4 linked regions of the Homo sapiens genome follow. The protein of the gene in region 3 interacts with the protein of the main gene of each other region in a pairwise test. Each region holds a gene or a part of one and is shown on either strand. Other genes may lie near its edges.

What was found.
Region 1: the proteins of CYP4F2 (region 3) and SDHAF2 interact in binary tests that used the Homo sapiens proteins (3 or more experiments, as listed by UniProt).
Region 2: the proteins of CYP4F2 (region 3) and SLC2A13 interact in binary tests that used the Homo sapiens proteins (3 or more experiments, as listed by UniProt).
Region 4: the proteins of CYP4F2 (region 3) and TM4SF19 interact in binary tests that used the Homo sapiens proteins (3 or more experiments, as listed by UniProt).

The regions. Positions count from the first base shown.
Region 1 is NC_000011.10:61,440,123-61,447,145, reverse strand, and holds the end of SDHAF2 (succinate dehydrogenase assembly factor 2, mitochondrial), read right to left. Parts: intron 1,206-7,023; coding exon 1,075-1,205; 3' UTR 413-1,074; downstream 1-412.
Region 2 is NC_000012.12:40,103,073-40,110,439, reverse strand, and holds the start of SLC2A13 (proton myo-inositol cotransporter), read left to right. Parts: upstream 1-4,358; 5' UTR 4,359-4,631; coding exon 4,632-5,187; intron 5,188-7,367. UniProt on the Homo sapiens protein: H(+)-myo-inositol cotransporter. Can also transport related stereoisomers.
Region 3 is NC_000019.10:15,895,057-15,902,014, forward strand, and holds the start of CYP4F2 (cytochrome P450 4F2 precursor), read right to left. Parts: upstream 3,019-6,958; 5' UTR 2,970-3,018; intron 2,557-2,969; 5' UTR 2,556-2,556; coding exon 2,358-2,555; intron 595-2,357; coding exon 450-594; intron 1-449. UniProt on the Homo sapiens protein: A cytochrome P450 monooxygenase involved in the metabolism of various endogenous substrates, including fatty acids, eicosanoids and vitamins.
Region 4 is NC_000003.12:196,335,377-196,343,246, forward strand, and holds the start of TM4SF19 (transmembrane 4 L6 family member 19), read right to left. Parts: upstream 3,013-7,870; 5' UTR 2,888-3,012; intron 1-2,887. UniProt on the Homo sapiens protein: Negatively regulates vacuolar (H+)-ATPase (V-ATPase) activity by interacting with members of V-ATPase V0 complex and hence inhibiting V1-V0 complex assembly. Required for multinucleation during osteoclast differentiation.

The sequences.
Region 1 (7,023 bases), on a different chromosome or scaffold from region 3:
GTGTGCGGCTCCTATAATCACCAACCACCTGCTCATCAAATCTGGCCGACCTTCTTCTAGTCAACACCTTTAGATGCACCTGGTCCAGTCTGGGTGACTGATTCTACTGCCTAGATTACAGCTCTGAGGGCAAAACCCCTCCAGGGAGGGCACCACTAGCAACACAGAAGTCACACAGCCCTAGAGCTTTTAAAAACACTTCTAACTAATTCATTCTAATATATTATTTCTTATGTATTATTATTTAGTCAACTAATTGTGAAGACTGTAGGAATGAGGGGGAAAGTTTTCTATAGTGCTACATGAAAATAAAACCTGTAATTGTGAACTTGTAAAACTCTATAAACATGACTATGGGTTATATGAAAATAGACAAAATTAAAATTAATTGTGAGGGCTGGGAAATTGTAAATTTCCTTTTTTCAGTATGCTTTAATAATTCTCTTTCAAATTACAAAGTGCACGTTTTAAAGAAAGCCCAATGATGAAGATGTTGACTCCTAAGCAGTGTGCCCACACCACTCCTGCCTGTGGCCCTCATTCTGCCTGCTGTGCCTTTGAAGGATTCAGCTCAGGAGGCTGGGATCAGCTTCCCTTCGCAGAAGGAGCCATACCAGGTTGGAAGTGGGGAGTTCCACTTCAACAAAGCCCTGGGCCACTGAGGGCGGGGAGCTGCAGGGAGGGCGGGAGGCTTTCCATACAGCACGCACAGCTGGCTGCCTCTTTTCTTTGAGTACACTTGGGCTGAGGCAATGAGCAAGCACAACTGCTTCGCCTGCAGTGCCCTCTCGTGGCAGACTTGCCTCTAGAGATAGCAGCCAGGCAAAGCCTGCATGCCAGCGCTGCTGACAAATCACTTTTGAGGCTCAGAGCTGAACAAAAAAGTATGAGAATGAGTCACATTGTGCATTTACATGTATGTCCTAGGAGAGGGTTATGTCCATCACTTGAGGCAGGACCAGTGGTCTGGGGTAGGGCAGCTGGGCATCTAAGAAGCCGGAAGCAAGGCTAACGTCCATCATAAGTAGTTACCATCCACAGACTGAACCCCCATGCCAGGCCGTGGAGCACAGCTCAACGTGGCTTTTCAAAGAGGTACTCAAGATCTGGGGCACGCAGTCTCTGCTCTTTGTTTTTGTTTTTAGCAAAGTCTCTCAGCAGGGCCATGACTTCATTTTCAAATATTTCTGGGGCTGGTTTAGCTTCTGCAAGAGAAGAGTGGGCAGAAAAAATTATGCCATAGTCAGTCAATGCTCAGGTATGAGAATCTTAAAACTCGAAACACTGGCCAAGAACCACAGATGGATATATAGACTGTCTCCATCCTTCTTCTAAATATACACGATGTTAGCCTATACCAGGGGGTGGCAAACTGTGTGAGCCTATATTTGCAAGTCGTTTTATTGGAACAGCTGCTCCCAATGGTTTACATATTACCCATGCTCCTTTTGTGTTATGACAGCAGAATTGGGTACTTGCAACAGAGACCATATGACTACAAGTAAAATACTTACTATCTGGTCCTTTATGAACAAGTTTGCTGACCCCTGGCCCGCACAATCTTGGCTGTACTATTTTGCTTTGCATTTGGCAATTCCATTGTTCCCCAGACATTGTGTTTTCCCTTGCAATGTATATATCTCTTGAAACAAAAGCTCTCTCCTTTGTCTATCAGTTAGAGGTCCTCAGTTTTAAGAGACAGAAACTAATAACTCTAGTAAACTTAAGCAAAAAGGAATTTATTGGAAGGATATTGGAGGCACACAGAACTGTCATGAGCCTAAAGAACCAGATTTCAGTGAACGGGCAACATAGGCACTGAGTCAGAAGAATGAGAAGGCCAGCCTCAGTCTACGGCAGTGGGTCTGGCAGTGTGCTGCTCCCCCTGACCTTTCTCTACACCCTTGGGACACTTATTTAAGATGCCAATTACAAGCAAAGCCTCCCACTGCCAAAGCCGAGGCAATGTGCTCCAGAATTACCCTTCCACCAACACTAGGTACGACGCCAGGAGAGAGAATTCCTCAAAACCAAGTCAGATTCTCCCTTACTCAGCACAGGGCCTGGCATCTAGTGAGGGCTCTGTTTTCATGTGACAATCAACATAAGATCAAAGAGGTTTTGGCTTCCCCCAAGAAAGTAGAAAGTTGGAAAGAATATTGCACTCACTGTAACAACAAGAAAAAGCCAGATAAATTACAAATATTATGACTTTTCTCAAAGATATCAGAGAACTGAGGTCACGAGGCAACCCAACAGACGAAACCTAAGGAAAAAGAGGCCCTTCAAAGGAGAAACGAGAGCCATGCACTTGCTCACCTGTGGCAGGCACAGGAAGAAGAGACACTGGACATCATACAAATGGGTAAAAGGAATTCAGCTAAAAAAATTTTTTTTTTTGTTTGAGACGAGTCTCACTCTGTCGCCCAGGCTGGAGTGCAGTGGTGCGATCTGGACTCACTGCAAGCTCCACCTCCTGGGCTCACGCCATTCTCCCGCCTCAGCCTCCCGAGTAGCTGGCACCACAGGCGCCCGCCACCACGCTCGGCTGATTTTTTGTAATTTTTTTTTTTTTAGTAGAGATGGGGTTTCACTGTGTTAGTCAGGCTGGTCTTGGTCTCCTGACCTTGTGATCCGCCCACCTCTGCCTCCCAAAGTGCTGGGATCACAGGCGTGAGCCACCACGCCCAGCCAAAAAAATTTGTTTTAAATTAATACAGACAGGGCCAGCCTTATGTTGCCCAGGGGAGACTGCAGTGGCTAGTCAGAGGTGCAATTCCACCACTGATCAGCACAGGAATTTCGACCTGTCCCATTTCCAGCGTGGGCTGGTTCACCCCTCCTTAGGGAATCGGGTGGTCCCCTGCTTCTGAGAGGTCAACATACTGTTGCCAACTTTACAGCAGACACCTGATTGGTATAGAGCACTGCAGCCAAGAATTCCTGGGCTCCAGCGATCCTGCTGCCTCAGCCTCCAGGGCAGCTGGGACTGCAGGCCTGTGCCACTAAAATTTGCAATGAATTGTTAAAAGCCAAGTGTGGGCTAGCATGAGTGTATAAAACCACAGACACAGGCTGGGCACAGTGGCTCACGCCTGTAATCCCAGCACTTTGGGAGGCCGAGGCGGGTGGATCACGAGGTCAGGAGATCAAGACCATCCTGGCTAAAACGGTGAAACCCCGTCTCTACTGAAAATACAAAAAATTAGCCGGGCGTGGTGGCGGGCGCCTGTAGTCCCAGCTACTCGGGATGCTGAGGCAGCAGAATGGCATGAACCCAAGAGGCAGAGCTTGCAGTGAGCCGATATCGCGCCACTGCCTCCAGTCTGGGTGACAGAGTGAGACTCCGTCTCAAAAAAAAAAAAAATTAGCCAGGTGTGGTGGCACGTGATTGTAGTCTCAGCTACTCAGGAGGCTGAGGCAGGAGAATCGCTTGAACCTGGGAGGTGGAGGTTGCAGTGAGCCGAGAGGGTGCCACTGCACTCCAGCCTGGGCGACAGAGCCAGCTTCCACTCTAAGCACACGTTAACGCTAGACACTAGTAATGCAATGAAGGTAACCAAAGCAAAAACAACCCAAGCTGAGCTTACCTCCCAACTCACTGACTTGATCCCCACACTAACAGTAAAGTAGAAGAAGCATCCCCAATTGTAAGCATAAATACAATTATGAGAAAATTACGAGACATATACACAAAAGAAGAAAAAAACAACACACTGTCAAGGGACAAAGAAATCAACAGAAGCAGACTGAGGGATGACCCAGATGTTAGAACTATCAGACAGGGAATTTAAAATGACTATGACTAATATTAAAGGCGCCAGTGGAAAAAGCAGACAAAATGTATGAACAGATGAGAAATTCTAGCAGAGTTGGAAACTCCAAAAGTCAAATGGAAATGCTAAAAACAAATACAGTAGCAGATATGCAGAATGGTTTCAACAGGCCCATCATGAGATTTGACATCATCAAGGAAAGAATTAGTGGAAGACAGGTCAATAGATATTATCTAATACAAATAACCCAAACTGATGCACAAAGAGAAAAAAGAATAAAAAACACAAAACAGAGAACCCAAAAGCTGTTGGACAGACTGAGCACAGTGGCTCACGCCTGTAATCCCAACACTTTAAGGGACTGAGGCAGACGGATCACTTGAGGCCAGGAGTTCAAGCCCAGCCTGGCCAACATGGTGAAACCCGTCTCTGTGAAAAATACAAAAAAATTAGCCAGGCATGGCGGCACGTGCCTGTGGTCCCAGTTGCTCAGGAGCCTGAGGCACAAGAATCGCTTGGACCCAGGAGGCAGAGGTTGTAGTGAGCCAAGATTGCGCCACTGCTCTCCAGCCTTGGTGACACAGCAAGACTGTCTCAAAAAAACAAAAAACAAAACCCCCACAACAGCTGTTGGACAATATTAAACCATTTAACTAAGTATAACTAGAATCCTAGAAGGAAAAGAGGGAGAAAACAAAGCAGAAGAAATAGCTGAAGGGGTAACAGCTGAGAATTTTTCAACAATAATAAAAGATATGAAAACACAGATCCAAGATGCCCAGAGAACCCAAAAGCACGATAAATATCAAATGCCTACATATATAAATATCAAATAAATACCTATGTATATAATATTGAAACGGCTAGAAACCAAAGACAAAATATTGAAAAGATTCAGAAAGAGAAGACACATAAAAAGGAACAAAGATACAGCAGACCTCGTCACAAACTATGGAAATGAGAAAACAGCACATGGTAACACCGGAGGGAATATGAAGCTGGTGATGCACTGAAGGTAACCAGAGCAAAACCAAAGTCCAAACCCAGCGGAACTCCTGACTACCCGATCTTGTACACTAAGAGCTGGCGGTAGAAGTGTTTCTATTTAACAGAAGAAAAAACATTGTGACCCTCGAATTCTATATCCAGTGAAAGTATCTTCCAAAATGGAAAATCTGGCCAGGCATGGTGGCTCACACCTGTAATCCCAGCACTTTGGGAGGCCGAGGCAGGTGGATTGCTTGAGCTCAGGAGTTTGAGACCAGTCTGGGCAACATGGCAAAACCTCATCTCCACAAAAAATACAACAACAACAAAAATTAGCTGGGCATGGTGCTGCCGGCCTGTAGTCCCAGCTATTCTGGAGGCTGAGGTGGGAGGATCGCTTGAGCCCAGGAGGTGGAGCCTGCACTGAGCCATGACTGCACCACTGCACTCCAGCCTGGGTGACAGAGTGAGATCCTGTCTCAAAAAAAAAAAAAAGGGAGGAGTGGTGGGGGGCGGAATTTGAAGAGACATGTCACCAAATATACATAAAGGGCTGATAAGCCCTTGAAAAGATCCTCAATATTATTAGTCATTAGGGACATGCCAATTAAAACTATAGTGATGTACCAATATATACTTCTTGGAATGGCTAAAAACAAAAACAAAACCCTGATAATACAAAGTGTGGGTAAAGATGTGGAACACCAACCCCTCCCTTCACATCCAACACCCTGGCAATCACTGATTTGTCCCTGTAAGTTTTGCCTTTTTCAGATTATCATGTAAACAGAATCACATTCTTGGAGTCCAATTATGTACTGAGTATGTACTTGTTGAGTCTGATCTTTTTTTTTTTTTTTTTGAGATGGAGCCTCGCTCTGTCACCCAGGCTGGAGTATAGTGGCATGATCTCGGCTTACTGCAACCTCCGACTCCCTGGTTTAAGAGATTCTCCTGCCCCAGCCTCCCAAGTAGCTGAGATTACAGGCGCCCACCACCACGCCCAGTATTTTTAGTAGAGACGGGGTTTCACCATGTTGGCCAAGATGGTCTCAATCTCCTGACCTCGTGATCCGCCCACCTCAGCCTACCAAAGTGCTGGGATTACAGGCGTGAGCCACCGCGTCTGGTTGAGTTTGACCTCTTTTGCTTAGCACAGAAGCTGGCAAACTATGCCCTGTGAGCTAAGAATGATTTTTAGAGATTGGGTCTCACTCTTGCCCAGGCTGAAATGCAGTGGCGTGATCATAGGTCATTGCAGTCTCTGAACTCCTGGGCTCAAGTGATCCTCCCAAGTAGCTGGGAATACAGTGTGCACCACCAAGCCCAGCTAACTTATTTTTATTTTTGGAGATAGGGGGTCTATGTTGCCCAGGCTGGTCCCAAACTCCTGGCCTCAAGAGATCCTTTGCCTCAGCCTTCCAAAGCGCTGGAATTATAGGTGTGAGCCACTGCATCCAGCCAAGAATGATTTTTTAATGGTTGGGGAAAAAAAATCAAATGTATATTTCATAACTGGTGAAAACAGTATGAAATTCTATTTTCAGTGTCCACAAATAAGGTTTTATTGAAACACAATCATATTCGTTTACCTGCTATCTGTGGCTGCTTTCATGCTACAAAGGTCGAGGTGAGTAGTTATGAGAGGCTGTATGGCCTGCAAAGCCTAAAATATTCATTATCTGTATTTACTATCTATATTTACCTATTATAGAAAAAGCTTACTATCTATATTTACCTATTACAGAAAAAATGTACTAAAAGTTTTATTTATTTATTTTTGAGACAGAGTCTCATTCTGTCACCCAGGCTGGAGTGCAGTGGCCCAATCTTGGCTCACTGCAACCTCCACCTCCCAGGTTTAAGCGATTCTCCTGACTCAGCCTCCCGAGTAGCTGGGACTACAGGAACCCGCCACCACACCCAGCTAATTTTTTGTCGTTTTAGTAGAAACGGGGTTTCACCGTGTTAGCCAGGAAGGTCTCGATCTCCTGGCCTCAGGTGATCCACCCGCCTCGACCTCCCAAAGTGCTGGGATTACAGGTGTTGACTCACCGCGCCCAGCCCTATTTATTTTTTTGAAAGAGTCTCACTCTGTCGCCCAGGTTGGAGCACAGTGGCGTGATCTTGGCTCACTGCAACCTCTGCCTCCCGGATTCAAGAGATTCTCTTGCCTCAGCCTCCAGAGTAGCTGGGCGCACCACCACACGCGGCTAACTTTTGCATTTTTAGTAGAGACGGGGTATTGTCATGCTGGCCA
Region 2 (7,367 bases), on a different chromosome or scaffold from region 3:
ATTATACATACAGAGATGAGGAATAATCAAAATGATGGGATTCTGGCATTACTAGGCTTCATGAAGGTAATACCATCAAAATAACATTTTGATTCTTCACAGTCACCGTTCATTGACTTTCTCTTTTTTTTTTTTTTTTTTTTTTGAGACAGAGTCTCTCTGTTGCCCAGGCTGTAGTGCAGTGGTGCAATCTTGACTCACTGCAACCTCTGCCTCCTGGGTTCAAATGATTCTCCTACCTCAGTCTCCCAAGTAGCTGGGATTACAGGGATGCGCCACCACACCCAGCTAATTTTTATATTTTTAGTAGAGATGGGGTTTCACAATGTTGGCCAGGCTGGTCTTGAACTCCTCACCTCAGATGATCCACTTACCTCGGTCTCCCAAAGTGCTGGTATTACAAGCATGAGCCACTGCATCTGGTCTTTCATTGACTTTCTATAATAAAATTCAAAGATTTTCCATGAGTTTTCATTCTCTTTGATCTCTGTGTAATATAATTGATTCTCTTAGCCAGTTCTTCCTTCTTGAAATGGTTTACTTGGCTTTTATGCCATGTTAACTTACTAATTACTTATGGCAACTCAAATATATTGGTTTTATTGCCAGCATTTATTCGCCTGACTTCTGGCAAAATAGCACATCACATTTCTTATGGGAAAACCTCCTATAGTCTAAGCCCATGTAATTTACCTTCACTCACAGCTCATGATGTGGGTGTTGATTGGCCCCAGCCTGATCACCAAACTGTAATCTCCCAGCTGCAGTAACTGGGGCAGGAATGGTACCACAACTGACAAATCCAATTACATACAATATAAGTTTGCTAGGGCTTTGGAGAAAGAGGCTCTTTTTCTGTCCTTTCAGACATGAGTGGAAAAGGATATTATATTAGGCTGTTCTTGCTATAAAGAAATATCTGAGACTGGATATTTTATAAGAAAAGAGGTTTAATTGGCTCACAGTTCTGCAGGCTGTACAGAAAGCACAGCACTGGCATCTGTTTCTGGAAAGATCTCAGGAAGCTTACAATCATGGCGGAAGGCAAAGGGGGAGCAGGCACATCACACGGTGAAAGCAAAGGACCAGATCTCCTGTGAACTCAAAAGGAGCTCATTTATCGCCAAGGAGATGACCCAAGCCATTCATTTGGGATCCACCCCCAGGATCTAAACTAGTCTTGTCAGGCCTCAACTTCAACACGGGGGATTACATCTCAACATGCGATTTTGATGGGGACAAATATCCAAACTATCTCAGGTATAGGGCTTGGAGTTTGCTACAGCCCTTTGAGCACCACATAAAATTTAAGAATGGAGCCTAAGGAGTAGGAAGCAGAGTGGAGAAATGGACGTCTGTGTGACATCCTGGTGTTTTTAGTCCTTTATCCAACTGCACTTGACGCCAACTTATTAGAGAGTTTTCAGAGACAATAGACAATAAGTACTCCCTCTTTCCCATTATTTTGGCTTAAACCAGTTTGATCTCGATTCTCTATCTCTTGCATCCAAAACAATTCAAAAACAAACAAATAAAACAACAATATATATATATGTATTTTACCATGTACATACATATGCATATAAATTCATAGAGAAAGTTCTGGAAAGATATATTTCAAAGTGGTAGAGGTGGTTATCTCTGGCCAAAGGGGTCTGTTATGGTGGGAAAGACGATTGAGAAGGGGCTTTTCGCCTTTCTTTATTGTTAGACTGCTTTGGAACATGTTACTGGAGGTTGTAAAGCAAATATCCTCAAAGCTGGAACTATAGAACTCACTGCAAACCAATAATGACTCTTGTAATTAAATTTGCCCTGCAATAGCAATTAATTATATTTCAAAAATACCCTTTAACACTCTCGTCAATGAGTAGTTGCTGCACCATTATCTGCTCTTCAAATGAGAGAAAAAAAAAAAAAGCAAAGCACAAGCTAATCTTGTGGTTTGTGGAAAGTTTTACGGTAAAACAATGGTGGTGTTGACATTCATCTCTTTTGATTCTCAGCCCATGGGTTTTCCAGTTCATCATAAACCGCAGCTGGGGCCGACTTTGGGGAACTCCATATTAGACTCACGCGCTGATGCTAAGTTGAACTGGACTCCCTCTCAAGGCTGAGACGAATTCTGTTTAACTCTCCGAAGCTTTTTTTTTTTTTTTGAGATGGAATCTCGCTCTGTCGCCCAGGCTGGATTGCAGTGGCACGATCTCGGCTCACTGCAACCTCCGCCTCCTGGGTTCAAGCAATACTCTGCCTCAGCCTCCCGAGTTGCTGGGATTACAGACGCGTGCCGCCATGCCCGGCTAACTTTTGTATTTTTAGTAGAGACAGGGTTTCACCACGTTGGCCAGGCTGGTCTTGAACTCCTGACCCCGTAATCCACCCGCCTCAGCCTCCCAAAGTGCTGTGATTACAGGCGTGAGCCACCGCGCCCGGCCTCCGATGCCTTTTTTTTCACGTCACATTTCTTTTAAAATGTAACCTGACCGCAGATACATAACTGTCCTAATACGGAACAGAATTTTTAAAGTAGTTTCTTGTTCTATGACCCCAAAGCTGAATTTCAAGCAAGGAATGCTCAGGAACCAAGATGTTCACTGCACCAGCTGAGACAAAAAGTAGTTTATTTTCATCTCAGCAAGAGGGAACTGTCAAAGAACCAGATGCTTCTCATCTGCGGAGCCCTTCTCTTCAGAAGCCGTGGGAATTGGCTCACCACCAGGGGGCGCAGTTTTACTATACCGTAGCATGCCGCGGAAAAGGCGCGCTCTCACCTGCAATATTGTCCGAGGTCTGAATATTAAAGAGTTCATTGCTGCAGATCTAAAGGCTCTCTCTGTTTAACTGATGCCTGGGAATGACGGTAGAGCCTTGCTTTAAAGCCAGACGATAACATTTAAATAGTTAAGCCGTCTGGCTTCATTAGTTTATTTTTCCTTGTTGCTGGCAAGGAAAGTACTATATTGTAGAGATAATCGTGACTGATAATCAAAACGAAAGCAGTTTTGACAAATTCTAATATAAGTTTTTACTGAAACAGGAATGACAAAATCCTTTTGTCTGAAAGGAAAAAAGTTATAGCTGCATGAAAAATAGGCCCCAGGCTAAGAAAGCTTTTGCTCAAATAAGGGAAATAAAAGAGCAGTGGAATTGTAGGAATAGAATCATATGATGCTTGACTTTTTGCCCTCAGCCTGAAGAATGAAAGCAAATTAGAGGCACAAAACATCTTTAGCAGTCCCAGCTGCTAGGAAGGCTGAGGCAGGAGAATCGCTTGAACCTGGGAGGCGGAGGCTGCAGTGTGCCGAGATAGCGCCACTGCACTCCAGCCTGGGCGACAGAGCGAGAATCTGTCTCAAAAACAAAACAAAACAAAACAAACTATCTTTAGCCCCTGATGCGCAACTGTATATTTTAAAAACATTTAAATTAAAGGGGGAAACAAACCCCAAATGAACCAACAACTGTTAATTCACTCAACAGTTTAAAAAATTGGTTGCAAATAACGTTATCTTTGCTTTGTTTCAAGTAAATGAGGCTGTTAAAACAGTGCCTCATGGAGGGCAACAGTGGGGATTCTCAGGAGAGAAGCTATCCTACCTTTTGGTTAGCATGTTGGGGCGGGGAAATGGAGACTGCCTGCCGAATCACAAATCAGGGTCTTGAGTTTTCTTTCTATTTCTGGGAATTACCCGTTACATGAGTGGAATGCATATATGTGAATTTTCTTTTACAGGTCGGGGATCCATGGAAGGAGGGTTTGGGATTCACCACAGAGATATGTTCTCTGTCCTCAAAGAATCAAATGTACCATTCCTTTAAAATAAGCATAAATTGAGGAGGGACTGGCGATGAGAGTGGAAACTAGCTATAGAAATGGGAGCATGCAGCCCTGAATTGCTCCAGAACAAACACATTTAATGCCAGGGAAGTAGACCACGCTGGGTAATGTCACAATACTATAAAAGGAAGGGTACTTGCTAGGTCCTATTCTAGGATATTTTTTCCAGCCCTCTCTCTAGGCTGCTGGAAGGACAGTGAGGCTGGTTTAGGTGCTCTCTCCCTCCTCTCCAAACACGGCAAACATTCTGGGTGGCTTCCCGTCTGGAAGCCTGTTGCCTGATGGCATCGCCACATTGGCTTGCTCCACCGCTGCAGCTCGGAAGGCAGGGTTAATTCCATACGGTTGCCAGAGCCCTAAATGAGGGAGCCTAGGTCAGAGGTCGCACCCACCGGGAGGGCGGGGTTTAGGGGTCCGGGGCGGGCTGAGCCTGGCCCCGCCCAAGGAGGGGGCGGGACGTTTCCCGGGCCCCGCCCCGCCGGCCCGGGGTTGCACGTGACCCGCGGTCCCGCCTCCCGCCCGCTCCGCAGCGCCAGCTCGGCAGGCGCGGGGCGTGAGTGTGGAGTGAGACCCGCCGGGCTCCAACTCCGCAGCGTCGGAGCGCGGCGGGCAGCAACTTTCTCCCCGGAGCGGCCGTGGCGGCGGCTGCTGCCGTGGCAGCCGGAGCGGAAGCCGGGAGGAAGAAAGCGGCGGCAGCGGCGGTTGCTCCCGCCGGCTCGGGCTGTCTAGCTCGCCGAGACTGCCGGCCCGCGGAGCCGCGTCCCCCCGGGCAGCCCCGGGCCCCTGCCCTATGTCCCGCAAGGCAAGCGAGAATGTGGAGTACACGCTGCGGAGCCTGAGCAGCCTGATGGGCGAGCGGCGCAGGAAGCAGCCGGAGCCGGACGCGGCGAGCGCGGCCGGGGAGTGCAGCCTCCTGGCTGCCGCCGAATCGAGCACCAGCCTGCAGAGCGCGGGCGCGGGCGGCGGCGGCGTCGGGGACCTGGAGCGCGCGGCGCGGCGGCAGTTCCAGCAGGACGAGACCCCCGCCTTCGTGTACGTGGTGGCCGTCTTCTCCGCGCTGGGCGGCTTCCTGTTTGGCTATGACACCGGGGTGGTGTCAGGGGCCATGCTGCTGCTCAAGCGGCAGCTCAGTCTGGACGCGCTGTGGCAGGAGCTGCTGGTGTCCAGCACGGTGGGGGCGGCTGCCGTCTCGGCGCTGGCCGGAGGCGCCCTCAACGGCGTCTTCGGCCGCCGCGCTGCCATCCTCCTGGCCAGTGCCCTCTTCACCGCCGGCTCCGCGGTGCTGGCTGCGGCCAACAACAAGGAGACACTGCTCGCCGGCCGCCTGGTCGTGGGACTCGGCATCGGTGAGTTCGGGCTCCGTGAAGGGCGCCCGGGATCCCATTGTCACCGCCCTTGACCCTGGGTGTTGCGTGCCTCTTGCCCATCGGGGTCCCCGTCTGGTCTCCCAGGGTCAGAGAATCCTCCACTTCTCTGGCCTCCAGAGCCCATCTGTTTGTTGGTCCAGCCTCCAAGGCTCTCCCGGGAGGTGGGAGGGTCGGGGGGGAGGGGGTGTCACTCTAGTCTCCCTCGAGCGCACGTGGAATCTTTGATAGGCCACGGACCAGTCAGTCCAAGTGGTTGTTGCCTCTCAGCACTTCCAGAAACCTAGCTGAGCACCAGCTCTTTCCTTGATCCAGCCTAACCTGATGCTGCTTCTTGAGCTTACGAGGGTCTCTGCTTTCCTGCACTGTCCCACCTTGCCTCTCCACTGCTAGCCCCTTTCGTTTTCTGGGGCTCCCAGCCTGGAACCTAGACCATCGTCAAGTTACAGTGAGATAATATTTAGAGTTAAGTAATTCTGGACTCTGAAAGGTTTATTAGCGACCCCTGCCCTCTTTGCTTATCTAGCATTTGTCTTTAGATGGCATCTCCTTTTGCTTTTATGCTTTTTCTATTGCCTTTCAGCTTTCATTCTTTTCCCAAGTAAATTCCATTCTCCTCTGTTTTTCCAACTTTTTCATTTGAATCCTTTTTTATCCATTCTCCTCTTTGTTTTTCCTCTCCTGCTTTCCAGTTGGGAACCAAATTATCTATTAAAGGTCATATTCACTTCCTTAATTCATTTAGGAGCTACTCCCCCTGTGGATAAATGCCCCGCAAGATAAATGTTTGGAATTTACTTCAAAAATGAAGGCATTAAGGTTCTCCTGGCGTTGAATTTTTTTCACCCTGGTTGCTGAGCAGGGGAGGTACAATTGGCAAGTTTTTGGCAGAGGGAAGCTATTTGGAATGTGCTCTGTATTATTAGAAAGCACTTTTGAGGGAAAGTGGGGGGCTGTGACTTAAATCTCACTAGTAATTTTTCTAAGACACACCGCTGATGCTTTTTTAATGTTTCGTTTCATAATTCAGTTTTTTGTTTCCCTTAGGGTGCTGTTGAAGTATTTCTTCCCTATGGCTGGGGCTTGATGAAAGCGCTTTAAACCTGGGGCTGCTGCTGATCTGTGTATTCACCACTTGTTTGATGTTTGTGCTTTTCACCCTTTCTCTGTGGGTTCTGAAGGGAAGCAAAGGCCATATATTCAACTCCACATGCGGGAACCATGAGCCTAAAACCCAGCTCACTGCACTTTATATTCAAAGTTTGTCAGTAGTGACCTTCCTTTTGCTGTTTATTGTACTGTTAATTAGCAAAGGTAGGGCAAAGCTCTCCGTAACATATTAAGTTGGCACAAAAATATCCAAAGTGACCAAAAAATCCAGCTGAAATGAAACCTATTTGTGTGGAAACTACTTGGGCCTTCAGGACCCTTCAACAAATAACCTGCTGTTTAAGTGACCACGATTCTTTTCTCAGCATTGTCTGCTTGGGACATCTGGACCTTTTTTGTTGCTTCTGACATAGAAATAACATCATTTTAGGTAGCAAGAATTGTTCTGTCAACCTCAATCTTTTCTGTAATTTTGAAATTGAATCATGCTTTGCAGAGCTGTCTAAATGAAGCTTCCTAGTGTTTTGCTATGGCAGGTATTGGTTAAAATCTTGGGTATTATGTTTACTCTTTTTATCTGACCTGCGAATTGAGCCCTGTTCTGTGTAAGGTCCCCTTCCAGATGTTGTGAGCTGAATAGTGAGGAGAATGTATTATACTTTAGTAAATGTAGCAAGCTGGGGCAAAAGCAACGTAGAACTTGCTAAGCTTTATAAGATAGGTTATCAGAGATGGCTGATGAATTCAGAGGGGGTACAGTTATCTCCAACAGAGGGAAGCCAGAAGCTCTTACCAATGGAAATGGTATGTTGACATGTCAGTATTTTAACAGAAACGAGGAAAGGACGTTCTAAGCAAGGGGCAAAATGGGTAAAGGAAGGAAAGCATAGGGCATACTTGGGGAATAGGTGGAAGCAGCAATAGAGGACAAAGCAGGAGATCAGATTGGAAGTGTTGGTGTGCAAGAGCTGTGGAGGCCTCTCTGTCTTGCAGCCTCATTCTGTGGTCTCTGGGCTGGTTGGTTCAATAGAGAAGCCCAGTTTAGATATGTT
Region 3 (6,958 bases):
TGCACTCTCCTTTCAAACATTCCTACTCATTGTTCCAGACACAGCTCCAGTAACTCCTCCTCTAGGAAGCCTTCCAGCCTGCCCCAGCAGAGACCTTGTTCTTCCCTGGGCTGTGATCCATCTCCCTCTGGCCCTTTCCTGATCCCATGAAGTTGGGGATATCTCTATCCAGGTCCATCTCCTTAAAGTTGGGGGTTCCTCCAGGACTGGGCCTTGGGTTGAGGTCTCTTAGGGTTCCAGGGCAGCCCAGAACACCAGAACAGGGGGTAGATGGCAATAGAGAGAGGAGACGCTGAGATGGAAATTGATGAATACATGAAAGAAAGATGAAGATAGCTGAGAGGGAAGGAAAGGAGAGGCCAGAGTACTGCAGGGCCCACACAGGAGCTTGGGGATAGCGGAAGTGCAGGCCTCAAATGCACTGCCCCACCAGCTGTTCCAGATGGTACCTGAGGCGTTGATGACAGACCGGATGATGTCGGGGTGGCACAAACTGAGGAGGGGGGAGATGGGTCCCATCCAGACCTTAAAGCCCTGGGGGTAGGTGGCCACCAGCTGAGTCAGAACTCTCATGCCCTCCTCTGTGGGGTTGACCTGCAAGCAAGGCAGGGGTCATTACCTTCTGTGATAGTTAATTCTAGGTGTCTACTTGACTGGGCTAAGGGATGCCCAGGTAGTTGGTCAAACATTATTTCTGGGTGTGTCTAATCTATTCATCCTATCTATCTAATTTTTCTATCTATATATCTATCTGCCTACCCATCTATCCATCAATCCATTTTATCTGTGCTTTCATCCATCCATATATTCATCTGTCTGTCTGCTTATCATCTATTAATAGCCATCTATCCGTCTAATCTATCCATCATATATATCTACTCCATCTGTCTACATAATCTATCCATCCTATCTACTCTATCTACCCATCCATCCATCATCCATCCATCCATCCATCCTATCTGTGCATCCGTGTGTCCATGCATCCATATGTCCTATTATTTGTCTATCTATCTATCCATCCATCCATCCATCCATCCATCCATCCATCCATGCTATCTGTGCATCCATGTGTCCATGCATCCATCTATTCTATTATCTATCTACCTACGTGCCTGTCCATCCATCCATCCATCCATCTATCCATCCTATCTGTGCATCTATCTATCTATCCTATTAGCTATCTATCTATCTATCTATCTATCTATCTATCTATCTATCTACATTCCTCCTGCTCTATCTATCTATCTATCCACATTCCTCCTGCTCTATCTCTCTTGGGTCCATCTCCAAGTCCCAAGGGTGCATCCCAGGGCAGAGGGAGAAGACGCACTGTCCACTCACAGAGGCCCAGTTATCTTGAGAGGAAGGATTTTCTTTTTCTGGGAGTCATTTCAGCCCAGAGGCAGCTATATGGGGAGGTCCTCACAGGGGAGATTTGTGGGGAGCAGTATCGCCTCAGGACATGTCCCTAAGGCTGGTCCCCACATGCCTTCATGTCCTGGCTGATCCACAGAGGCTCCAGTTCCTCCCATGGAGAAGGTTCTGCACATGGGAGACCTTCCCTTTTCAGCAGCCACTAGTGGAGCAGAGGTGACTCTAACTGTCCATCAGGACAATGGCTCCCACCTGGGAGCAGCTTCTGCAGCAGGCTCTGTGCTAGTGTGTCCTGTGCACCCTTCCACTTTATCTGTGGACACATCCATCAATCCTGCCATTTGCAAATGAGCAGACTAAGACCACATTCCCCAAAGAGGAGAGCGGTCTAAGTCAGAGGGCAAGGTCACGGGGAGGAGAAAGGCCAAGGAAAGCTTCTGAAAGGTGAAGTGAGTGGCCAACTTTTATCTGGGTTTGGCAACAGGTCTCATTGATAAGAGGGAGATAAGAAGAAGAATATAAGAGAAAGGTGCCTTCGGGTGTAGTGGAAGTGGGAGACGGCCCATGCCTCTCCTCTGGCCCAGCTGTACCCTCATAACAGGAAATAGTCCAGGCAAGGAGAGGACCCTGGACAGTGGGCATAAGAAGCCTCGAGTCCAGCAATGGAGAATGTGGGAATGCCAGGGACTCGCCTCTCTGTGCAGCCAACCCTCTGCCCAGGAGCCCCGCAGAGGTGCATTAATGTGGGAAGACAGGCAGGAAAAGGATTCAATGCAGGCCTGGAGTGGGAGGACAAGGAAGTGAGAAGGGCTTGCGTAGGCACCTCACAGAAATGAATAAGCAGAGGAATGAGTAAGATGCCTCCTCTGCTTCTCTGCCACCCCAGATCCCAGCCCACCCCTTCACCCCCACTCCCTAAGCCTCGTACCCCTCAGGAAGTCCATCCATCCTGAGACCTAGACCCATCCTGCTGCCACACTCACCATGCCCTGGTGTCCCCAAAACCAGTTCCGTCTTGGGGGTTGTGGGAAACACCGAAGGCGGCGGCAGTTGTCATAGAAGGCGTAGGTCCAGGCCAGGACATGGGCCAGGAGCCAGGAGGCCCCGACCAGCAGGAGGAGCAGCCAAGGGGATGCTGCCACTGGCCAGAGGCCCAGCCAGGACAGGCTCAGCTGGGACATCCTGCAGGGCAGACGGGATGGACGGTGAGATCCTGAGGCCCAGAGAACGGCCCAGGGACCTCCAGGGACAGTGGAGAGGCAGGGACGGGCAGTGCCGGAGGTAGAGCAGGGAGGGCTCAGGGATGGGTAAAAAGGGGCTGAGAGGTAAAGTCCAGAAAGGCCCAACCAAAACCAGCAGCCAAGTGGCCTCCAGTTCCCTAGTAAGCACTTAGAATGGGAAAGAGAGAGAGAGACTGATTAAAGTCCAGAAAGGCCCAGCCTGAATCACTGTGAGGTTGCCAGGGGCTTGGTTTCAGTTACTCGGAAACCACCCATCCTCCAGGCCAGCACCCAGGAGCTGCGTGGGCCTTGGGCAGTGCCCCTCTCCATCCCAGGCCAGGACCCCCCCCAGGCCTGCCACCCCCAGCCTGGCACCTTCTGTCAGGAGCAGTCTGTCCCAGACAACCTCCTCTCTCTGTCTGCTGGGAGGCCTTTGACCCTGGCCCTTGATATAGCAAAGGCTGTGGGAGGGCTGGCTGGGTTGGGCTGGGCCAACCAATCCCTGCAGCCTGGATGTGTCTCCTGAGCCTGGGCAGCCAATCAACACCTGGCGTCAGGCCAGCTGGGTGCAGAGGAATCAGCTCAGGGTCCAGATGGATGGGTAGATGCACAGATAGATAGAGTAGATAGGATGGATACATTAGGTAGATAGATAAAGTAGATATAGATAATGGATATATTAGACAGATGGATAGATAGCTATTAATAGATGATAGATAGATACATAGATAATAGGATAAATAGATGGAATGGATAAACGTACAGCTAAGATGGATTGATGGATGGATGGGTAGGCAAATATATATATAGATGAGAAATTAGATAGATAGGATGAATAGATTAGATAGACACACCCAGAAATAATGTTCCATCTCTGTCCCAGATATGTGGGATCCTCATTTGTGACATGGGAACTAGGGATCTTGGATCACTCCAATCACTCCAGATGCTACAAGGCCAGTGACTTACTCAGTATGATGCTGAGGAACATGACCATCAGAAACAGGATCAGAGTCACTCTCAAGCAAAAAAAAAAAAAAAAAAAAAAAAAAAAAAAAAAAAAACTCCAAGGATTAAATGATTTTTCCCATTGTCCTGGGGAGAAATTAATCCAAGGGAGGTCACAGGAGGGCAAATAATTCCCCATCACCACCACCACCACCATGAGCATACCATCACCCATGGAGTTTTCTGATTTACTCTTTGGCCCATTAAGCGTGAAATTTCTTATGCTAGGTTTCTTTCTGATAAGGGAGAAGAGATTAGTATCTCTACATTTCCTCTCCTCCTGCTACCTAGTCTCTGTATTCTAGGTTAAATTATAATTTATGTTGAGGATTTACAATGGCTGATACACCTAGCTGAGCCTTCTGCACAGAGATACATTGGGAGTGGAGGTTAATTGGGTCAAAGGAGAAATGCCATAAGCCCACACTCCAGCCTATCAGGGTGGATTAAAGGTCTGATTTGCCCAACTCTTGTCACACCTGCTCCCACTGAGAGGTGACAGCATGCTGGCAGTCCTCACAGCCCTCACTCGCTCTCGGCGCCTCCTCTGCCTGGGCTCCCACTTTGGCGGCACTTGAGGAGCCCTTCAGCCCACCGCTGCACTGTGGGAGCCCCTTTCTTTTCTCTTCTTTTCTTTTTTTTTGGATTTTTTTATTATTATTATTATACTTTAAGTTTTAGGGTACATGCGCACAATGTGCAGGTTAGTTACATATGTATACATGTGCCATGCTGGTGCGCTGCACCCACTAACTCGTCATCTAGCATTAGGTATATCTCCCAATGCTATCCCTCCCCCCTCCCCCCACCCCACAACAGTCCCCAGAGTGTGATGTTCCCCTTCCTGTGTCCATATGTTCTCATTGTGTAGGGACATGGATGAAATTGGAAATCATCATTCTCAGTAAACTATCGCAAGAACAAAAAACCAAACACCGCATATTCTCACTTATAGGTGTAGGAGCCCCTTTCTAGGCTGGCCAAGGCCAGAGCCGGCTCCCTCAGCTTGCAGGGAGGTATGGAGGGAGAGGCGCGAGTACGAACCGGGGCTGCGCGCGGCACTTGCGGGCCAGCTAGAGTTCCAGGTGGGCGTAGGCTTGGCAGGCCCCGCACTCGGAGCAGCCGGCCGGCCCTGCCAGCCCCGGGCAATGAGGGGCTTAGCACCCGGGCCAGCGGCTGCTCGGGAAGGTGTACTCGGTCCCCCAGCAGTGCCAGCCCACCGGCGCTGCGCTCGATTTCTCGCCGGGCCTTAGCTGCCTTCCCGCGGGGCAGGGCCCAGGACCTGCAGCCCGCCATGCCTGAGCCCCCGGCCTCCGTAGGTTCCTGTGCAGCCCGAGCCTCCCCGATGAGCGCCGCCCCCTGCTCCAGGGCGCCCAGTCCCATCGACCACCCAAGGGCTGAGGAGTGCGAGCGCACGGCGCGGGACTGGCAGGCAGCTCCACCTGCAGCCCCGGTGCGGGATCCACTGGGTGAAGCCAGCTGGGCTTCTGAGTCTGGTGGGGACGTGGAGAACCTTTGTGTCTAGCTCAAGGATTGTGAACGCACCAATCAGCGCCCTGTCAAAACAGACCACTTGGCTCTACCAATCAGCAGGACATAGGTAGGGCCAGATAAGAGAATAAAAGCAGGCTGCCCGAGCCAGCAGTGGCAACCCGCTCAGGCCCCCTTCCACATTGTGGAAGCTTTGTTCTTTCACTCTTTGCAATAAATCTTGCTGCTGCTCACTCTTTAGGTTCACACTGCTTTTATGAGCTGTAACACTCACCGCGAAAGTCTGCAGCTTCACTCCTGAGCCAGCGAGACCACGAACCCACCAGAAGGAAGAAACTCCGAACACATCTGAACATCAGAAAGAACAAACTCCAGACGCGCCACCTTAAGAGCTGTAACACTCACCGCGAGGGTCCGCGGCTTCATTCTTGAAGTCAGTGAGACCAAGAACCCACCAATTCCGGACACACCATTGTCTGAGTAAGTTTGGGTGCCAGGACTATGAGGTCGTGTGAAGACTTCCAGCCCCATACCTGCAGAACAGTCTGCAGCTCACTCTGCTCTGAACTGCCCCAACTTTGCACAGATATTCTCCATTCCTCGAAATGAAACTGTATCCTTCAAAGCTCACACATTTCGCTTATTGGCTCAGCGTAGGGAGCAAGTTCTCTAGATAGCTTACTACCAAATAAAATGGTGGAGAAGGGAACCCAGGCAGCTGGGCACAAAAAAGGAATGAGCAACAAGCTTCCTCTCTGAACATGATTTTCTGTGTAAGGTCTTGGACACTCCCTCGACTGCTTCCAGCCATCTGCCTCATGCTAGGTTTCTAGTTAATGTGGAATGAAAACTCTCACATCTTCCTTCTAGATGTAGCTGTGGTAATTGCAACTTAGGCAGTTGTGCTTGAGAATCTTCTTCTTAATACCACATGGCAAGGTCATTCCCCAATGCTTTTATTTACCTTCACTTGAATTTTTATATTAAACATTGGATTGAACAAGAACGGAGAAGAGAATCACAATTATTGTGTAGATGCTACATTGTAGTTACATTTTCTCTTGTAATTATTACAGTGCTGGGACTATTCGAGCTTTAAAATCCTTTCTGAAGATCCTAAAGCTACTCAGTGGTTCTGCTGGCATTAGGGGTTGATATGGTTTGGGTCTGTCTGTGTCCCTTCCCAAATCTCATGTTGAATTGTAATCCCCAATGCTGGATGTGGCGCCTGGTGGGAGGTGTTTGGATCATGGGGGCGGATCCCTCATGGCTTGATGTGGTCTTCGTGTTAGTGAGTTCTTGCAAGATATGGTTATTTAAAACTGTGTAGCACCTGACCCTCTCTCTCTTGCTCCTGCTTTTGCCAAGTGATGTGCCCGCTCCCACTTTGCCTTCTAACACGAGTAAAAGCTCCCTGAGGCCTCCCCAGAACCAGATGCCACTATGCTTCCTGTACAGCCTGCAGAACCGTGATCCAGTTAAACCTCTTTTGTTTACAAATTACCCAGTCTCAGGTATTTCCTTTTTTTTTTTTTTTTTTTTTGGTCTTAAACTCCAAGCCTCAAGCAATTCTCCCACCTTGGCATCCTAAAATGCTGGGATTACAGGCATGAGCCACCATACCCAGCCAGGTATTTCTTTATAGCAACACAAGAGTGGCCTAATACAGAGGGATATTGCCAATGATTTAATAGTAGTCTTCTTTTCTGTATGTCACTCTGCTTGACTAACCTTAAACAGTCTCTTTAAATAATTTGTAAGATTCACCTAACTACACTTTTCATATTGTCCTTCAATCCTTGCACTTATGGCATAAACATGTTTTATGATTATTATATAGGTATTTAAATAATGCATATGGGTCC
Region 4 (7,870 bases), on a different chromosome or scaffold from region 3:
GGGGAGGGGTGCACTGGGAGGGTGTGGGTAGGAGAGGGGAGGGGTGCCCTGGGAGGGTGTGGGTAGGAGAGGGGAGGGGTGCCCTGGGAGGGTGGGGGTAGGAGAGGGGAGGGGTGCCCTGGGAGGGTGGGGGTAGGAGAGAGGTGGGGTGCCCTGAGAGGGTGGGCGTAGGATATGAAGCAACAGTGACTCCTACCCCAGGGGCCCAAGGGTCCTGGGGCAGGGTGGGGTCAGGAATCGGGAGGGATGGGGTGTCTCTTCCCCCATCAACCCTCTGGCTGACAGGCCACCGGACTCCTCAGTCACAGCAAGGAACCTGTCCTGCTCCTGGGAGCAGGGCGCCTGTGGAGAACGGCCCCCTCACAGCCTGCCCACACTGCTGCGATGTCCCCGCATGTCTGCACATCCTCCCTCCGAGACGGTCCCATCGTGCAGTGCGGGGCTTGCAGTGTGTAATTCTGTGTTGAGGCAAATTAACCACCCAGGGTGTTAACAACTCACAACTTTAATCCACTGCCCACCCAGATGTCTGACCGGGGCCCAAGGAAAGATGGGTGTGTGGTTGGCCTTTCAAGCGGGTGCTCTAGATCATGGGGCCAGGAGACGCCGTTGTGCAGGAATGCATTTAGTGCCTTCAAATCACGGCACCTCTGAGAAAGCACCGTCTACACACTTCAGCAACATCAACCCCCCTGACGATCTCTTCTACAGAAAACGTTCCCATCAGAAAAGTCTGTTTTTTTTGTTTTTGTTTTTGTTTTGTTTTTTGTTTTTTTTTTGAGACAGAGTTTCACTCTTGTTGCCCAGGCTGGAGTGCAATGGCGCGGCCTCAGCTCACTGCTACCTCCGCCTCCTGGGTTCAAGTGATTCTCCTGCCTCAGACTCCTGAGTAGCTGGGATTACAGGTGCACACCACTACGCCCGGCTAATTTTGTATTTTTAGTAGAGATGGGGTTTCTCCAGGTTAGCCACGCTGGTCTTGAACTCCTGACCTCAGGTGATTCACCTACCTTGGCCTCCTAAAGTGCTGGGATTACAGGTGTGAGCCACAGCGCCCAGCCCAGAAAACTCTTAAAGGGGAAACTAAAAATGATGGACAGCGAGGGAAAACTACCAGCTGGAGCATGGCTTTTGGATGAGTGGAATTCAGAGCCCTGGCTGTCCGCCAATCAAACACTAAAAGCACTTGCCGCACTGCGGCTTCGTGTGAATTTCACCCCTCCTCCTGACTTTATTCCCCTAGAAATTATAACATTTGGAGAAACCCTTCCAAAAATGTGAACCAGGAGGTTAGCAAAGAGGTGGCCTAATTTGATATCTGAAGAGACAAGCAAGATCAGAAGGTAAAACCTTAAAACCAGGCTGCTGGGGAGTTCCTTGTTCTGTCCTGAGGTCCTAGCTAGGTGAGCACGTCATCGGCTAGATGTCCAGGCAACAACAGAAGTGATCGGCTCAATTCCATGGAGGAAGAGACCGCACATTCTCTACATCTGTGTCTCTCCCTCGCCACCCAGCAAGGCTTTTCTTTCATTCTTCCTTCAGTCGGATATTTATTAAGTGATCACTACCTGACAGACACTTGGGGGGCTAGGGATATAACGATGAAAAAGATGTAATCCCTTTCCTTGAGGAGCTTAAAGTCTAGTGGGGACACTGCTGACGCAAAAAGCAATTCTTTTTTTTTTTTTTTTTTTTTTTTTTTGAGACACAGTCTCGCTCTTGTTGCCCAGGCTGGAGTGCAGCGGCATGCTCTTGGCTCACTGCAACCTCCGCCTCTCGGGTTCAAGTTATTCTCCTGCCTCAGCCTCCCAAGTAGCTGGAATTACAGGCATGCACCACGCCCGGCTAATTTTGTATTTTTAGTAGTGATGGGTTTTCGCCATGTGGGTCAGGCTGGCCAAAAAGTAATTCTAATCAAGTGTGGTAAGAAATAGAGCAGACATGAGCAGGGCGGGAGAGGGCCTCTACCCCAGTAATGTCAGGTGACTATCAGGTGATGGCCAGGCGGTTGTTACACTGTCTTTCTAAAATAATATTGGTCACAGCCAGCGTTGGGAAAGACAGTCTCCCAATAGATAGAAAATACCTGAACTTGGTGATCAGCAGCTTCCTGGTAAGAGCTCAGGAATTGGGCGAGTGGGCTCAAGCATCTACACTAAGAAGCAAAATGGTGGAGTTTAGCTGGTGTGTGTGACCTTCCTCTAGTGCTGCTCCGCGGGTAAGGGAAAAACGCCTCAAGTGAGCATGCGCACGACTTCAGTAAACACACTGCGCATGCGGCCCCTCCCAAGTGCCTGTGCGGCAGGCAGGCGCCAAGTCAAGGGTCTAACAGCACATTTGGGTGTCTCAAGTCACGCACTTGGCCCTTTTCCAAGTGTACTTTACTTCCTTTCATTGCTGCTCAAAAACTTTTTAATAAACCTTCACTCCTGCTCTCAAACTTGCTTCAGCCTCTCCCTCTGCCTTAAACCCACTTCTGCCCCTCAGCCGAATCTCTCCCCCGAGAAGGCAAGGATTGAGTTTGCTGCAGACTCGCTGGATTCACAGCTGGTAACAGTAAGTACCAGGCAGGGGCATCCAACTTAAGGTGTCATGGAAGCACATGGAGGAACCTAATCCTATCTGGCAGAAGCAAAACGAAGCTTCCCGGAGGAAGGGCTGCCCATGCCCAAACTTGATGGACGATGAGATACTAGGCAGGAAGAGTATTCTAGGTGCAAAGGCCAGAAGTTGACAGACTGAGGCAACAGGAGAAGGTAAGTGAATGGCGCAAAGTCACACAGACGCCAAGCTGCAGAGCCAGGCTCACTGGAGTGGAAGCGTGCACTCTCATCTGTGAGGCTAGGCTGTTCCCTGGCCGTCACCTCACCCTTTCATCTCTGCTTACCTGCATCTGGTGTCAAGAATCAGAATGGGAGAGACAGAACCTGGAGAAAGGCTGCGTCTTCAGAGTGGGGCTCCACTCCTCCAGCTCCAGGGCTGGACCTGAAGGTTGTCTTTCCAGGACTCTTTCCAGGAGGGCCAGGGAGGCTCTGTATATACGTAGAGGTCACCCAGGCGTGTGTGTGTGCGCGCCCCCACGCCCCTGCCCACAGGCCTGCATTGAAGGCGCTTCCGCTCCCCGGAGAGCCCTGTCCTGATGACCCACCCTCTGCTCATTTTCATGTGATTCTAAGGCAGGAAACGGGAGACATGGCCTCATGAGCTCCGCTGTCCTGATGAGTCACTGGATGCACCCGTGAGAAACACCTCACCCTCCGCTCTCCCCAGGCAGCAACACTTGCCACACCCCAGCTGTTCCTGTCCTCATCTGCCACCCCGCGAAGAATTTCGGCTCTTTGACAGAACAGCACCGAGCAGGGCAGCCACCCCTTTTTCCTCATCACTCTCCTTACCTTGCCCTTGGCTGACTCGATGTGTTGCATGGTTCCTGTACTAGACGTCTAACTTTTTTTTTTTTTTTTTTTTGAGACAGGGTCTCACTCTGTCACCCAGGCTGGAGTGCAGTGGCATGATCTCGGCTCACTGCAACCTCCGCCTCCCACACTCAAGCAATCCTCCCACCTCAGCCTCCTGAGTAGCTGGGATTACAGGCACCTGCCACCATGCCCGGCTAATGTTTGTATTTTTAATAGAGACGGGGTTTTGCCATTTTGGCCAGGCTGGTCTCGAACTGCTGACCTCAGGTGTTCGCCTCAGCCTCCCAAAGTGCTGAGATTACAGGTGTGAGCCACCGCACTCAGCCTCTTGTTCAAGCCCCAGGCCACTATCATCTTGTACCATACTCTCACCAAATTGCTGAGGATTTTGTGGTGCTCTCTGTGTGGGAGATCCGTGACCCTCTATGGACAAGCTCCTATTCAAGATTCAGTTCAAACATTCCCAGTGAAGTCTGCCAGGATTTCTTTACTCCGAGTTAGGTACTTCTTTCTCTATGCTCCCATTGCATTTTAAACATCTAGATATTATATACAGTAAAGTGCACAAATCTTTTCTTTTCTTTTTTTTTTTTTTGAGACGGAGTTTCACTCTTGTTCCCAGGCTGGAGTGCAGTGGCACAATCTCAGCTCACTGCAACCTCTGCCTCCTGGCTTCAAGCAATTCTCCTGCCTCAGCCTCCCAAGTAGCTGGGATTACAGGCACGTGCCACCACGCCTGGCTAATTTTGTATTTTTAGTAGAAACACGGTTTCTCCATGTTGGTCAGGCTGGTCTCAAACTCCCGACCTCAGGCGATCCACCCGCCTCCGCCTCCCAAAGTGCTGGGATTACAGGTGTGAGCCAGCACGCCCAGCCTAAAGTGCACAAATCTTAATGTTAAAGTCTGATGAATTTTTACATGTATACCCTGGTGAACCAGCACAGAAATCAAGATACAGGACATTCCAAATCCCCAGAGGTTTCATTGTGTCGCCTGTCATTCGTATCCCTTGTCCCCAGTGTTAACTTTCATTTTGGCTCTTATAATAATTGATTAGGTTTTAGTTGTTCTTGAATTTCACATAAATGGAATCAAACAGTTTTCTTTAAAAAAAAAAAAAAAAAAGGCGGTTTTGCTGTGTCATCCAGGCGGGAGTGCAGTGGCACAATCATGACTCACTGCAGCCTTTTGCCTTCATAGGCTCAAGTGATCCTCACACTTCAGCCTCCTGAGTAGCTGGGACCACAGGCAAGCGCCACCACGCCAGCTGATTTTTTAATTTCGTGTACAGATGGGGTCTCACCATGTAGCCCAGTCTGGTCTCGAACTCCTAGGCTCAAGTGATCCTCCTGCCTCGGCCTCCCAAAGTGCTGGATTACAAGCGTGCGCCACCGCGCCCAGCCCAGTATGGCTTTTGTGTGTGGCTTTCTTCACTCAATATTCTATATGTAAGATTCATCCATCATGTAATTTATTTTTCTTTTATTGCTGAGTATTATTACATTGGATATTACAACTTTTTCTACTCTTAATGGACATTTATATTTTCAACTTTTGCCTGTTATAAATAATGCTGCTATGAATATTCTTCTGCATGTCTTTTGAAGGAACTATGCACTAATTTTTCCAGGGAATATTCTTAGGAGTAGGATTGCTATCATAGGGCAGGTGAATATTTAATTTTGGCAGATATTGCCAAACAGATTCCCAAAGTAGTCCTAATTTACACACCCACCAGCAGTGTGTGACAGTTCCAGTTTCTACACATTCTCACAAACATTTTTAATTTTAGGCATTGTGGTGGGTGTTTAGTGTAATCTCCTTGTGTTTGAATTTGCATCTCCTTGATGAGTAAGCACCTTTTCATATACGTATTAGCCATTTGAAGATCCTCTTTGAGAAGTTCCCGTCCATGGTTTTTGCCCATTTGTTATGGGTTATCTTTTTTTCTGTTTTCTGGTTCATTATAATTCCAGGTATGAGACCTTTATCAGGTAAATTTATTGTGAATGTTTTCCCCCAGTTTGTGGTTTGACTTTTTACTCTCTTTATTATGTCTTATTTTATTTTATTTTATTTTATTTTATTTTATTTTATTTTATTTTATTTTATTTTATTTTATTTTATTTTATTTTTTGAGACAGAGTCTAGCTCTGTTGCCAGGCTAGAGTGCAGTGCCACGACGATCTTGGCTCACTGCAACCGCCATCTCCCGGGTTCAAGAGATTCTCCTGCCTTAGCCTGCCGAATAGCTGGGATTACAGGCATGGGCTGCCACGCTCAGCTAATTTTCGTATTTTTAGTAGAGACAGGGTTTCACCATGTTGGCCAGGATGGTCTCAATTTCCTGACCTCGTGATCCACCCTCCTCGGCTTCCCAAAGTGCTGGGATTACAGGCGTGAGCCACCCCGCCTGGGCTTACTTGAAGAGAAAGTACTGATTTTAATTAAGCTCCATTTATGCATCTTCTTTTATGGTCAATATTTTTGTGTCTGCTTAGGAAATCTTTGCCCACTTCCCACTGGAGTGTGACTCACTTCTTACTCCACCGCTGTGAGGTCCTTGCAGGCAGGGACTAACTCTTACTCTGCTCTGTATATTCTGAGCCTCACACAGAGCTTGGAACATGGTAGAAGCTCAAGAATGACTTGATGAATGAATTAATTCGTGCAATGCATAATTCATGCAACACAGTCTCTGCACAGAGATTTTACTTCCAGTGATGAAAACAAACGATTACTGAGGAAACCCCTGATGCACATACATGAGAAGGGATCGTTATGACTGGCTATCACAGTTCCATTTTTAAAAATAAAATTGGAACTCTTCATTAATTTTCGTGTCATCCTTGCACGGGAACCACGTTAAACTAATCTGCATCGTCCCAATTTTAGTATATGTGTTGTCAAAGCAAGCACAGTTTAAGTCTTCTAAACTGTTTATGAGCTGCTTTCTATATAAGAATTTCTGTTTTTTTTTTTTTTTTTTTTTTTTTGAGACGGAATCTTGCTCTATTGCCCAGGCTGGAGTGCAGTGGCGCAATCTTGGCTCACTGCAACCTCCACCCCCAGGTTCTAAGCGATTCTCCTGCCTCAGCCTCCTGAGTAGCTGGGATTACAGGTGCCCACCACCATGCCTGGCTAATTTTTGTATTTTTAGTAGAGACGGGGTTTTGCCATGTTGGCCAGGCTGGTCTCGAACTCCTGACCTCAAGTGATCCACCCGCCTTGGCCTACCAAAGTGCTGGGATTACAGGCGTGATCCACTGCACCTGGCCAGCAAAAGAGATTTCGCATGCAGTGTCTGTTAGAACATCTCATATTTAGGCAATCAGAATAACTGAATGGCTGATTGCCGTATATCACTCAGATTTTTTTTTTCTCTCGATATGGGGTCTCGTACTGTCACCCGGGCTGGAGTGCAATGGCACAGTCTTGGCTCACTGAAACCTCTGCCTCCTGGATTCACTCGATTCTCCTGCCTCAGCCTCCCCAGTAGCTGGGATTACAGGCTCACACTGCCACACCCAGCTAATTTAATTTTTTAATTTTCTAATTTTTAGTAGAGACAGGGTTTCACTATGTTGGCCAGGCTGCTCTCGAACTCCTGACCTTGTGTTCCGCCTTCCTCGGCCTCCCAAAGTGCTAGGATTACAGGCGTGAGCCACCACGCCTGGCCTAGCACTCAGATTTTTAGATGATATCTCCATGTCCAACCCAATGGCTTATGTAGATATCATTAAAATGTTGCTTGTGGGACAAAGGAAAGTGCTGGAATTTGTTTTTAATCCCTTAAAGTGTCAAACTTAGTGTGGGGCTGGTGATGGCAGCTGTGGGTTTTTGCTCCTTCGGGTAAACTTGTGATGATTAATTCAATGATTATCTTATGGACAAGACACTTCTTTCTTTTTTTTTTTTTTTTGAGACGGAGTCTCGCTCTGTCGCCCAGGCTGGAGTGCAGTGGCGCGATCTCGGCTCACTGCAAGCTCCACCTCCCGGGTTCACGCCATTCTCCTGCCTCAGCCTCCCGAGTAGCTGGGACTACAGCGCCCGCCACCACAACCGGCTAATTTTTGTATTTTTAGTAAAGACGGGGTTTCACCGTGTTGGCCAGGATGTTCTCGATCTCCTGACCTCGTGATCCGCCCGCCTCGGCCTCCCAAAGTGCTGGGATTACAGGCGTGAGCCGCCGCGCCCGGCTGAACAAGACACTTCTTTAAGAAATCATGTACTTGAGATAAACGGGTCTCGTAAGGCTAGCGTTGGGACTATCTCTTCATTTCCATGTGGCGAGCCTCCTAGGGCAACAGAGGCACGGTCGCTGCCATGAAAGCACTGAAGCTTCACCTCTTTGAGACGTGTTAATAACCGCGGAGTGTGGCTCTACTGGAGATGGAGCTACTTGCTGTTACTTTGTCGGTGATGCTCCTAGGGAGGAGCAAATGGGAGT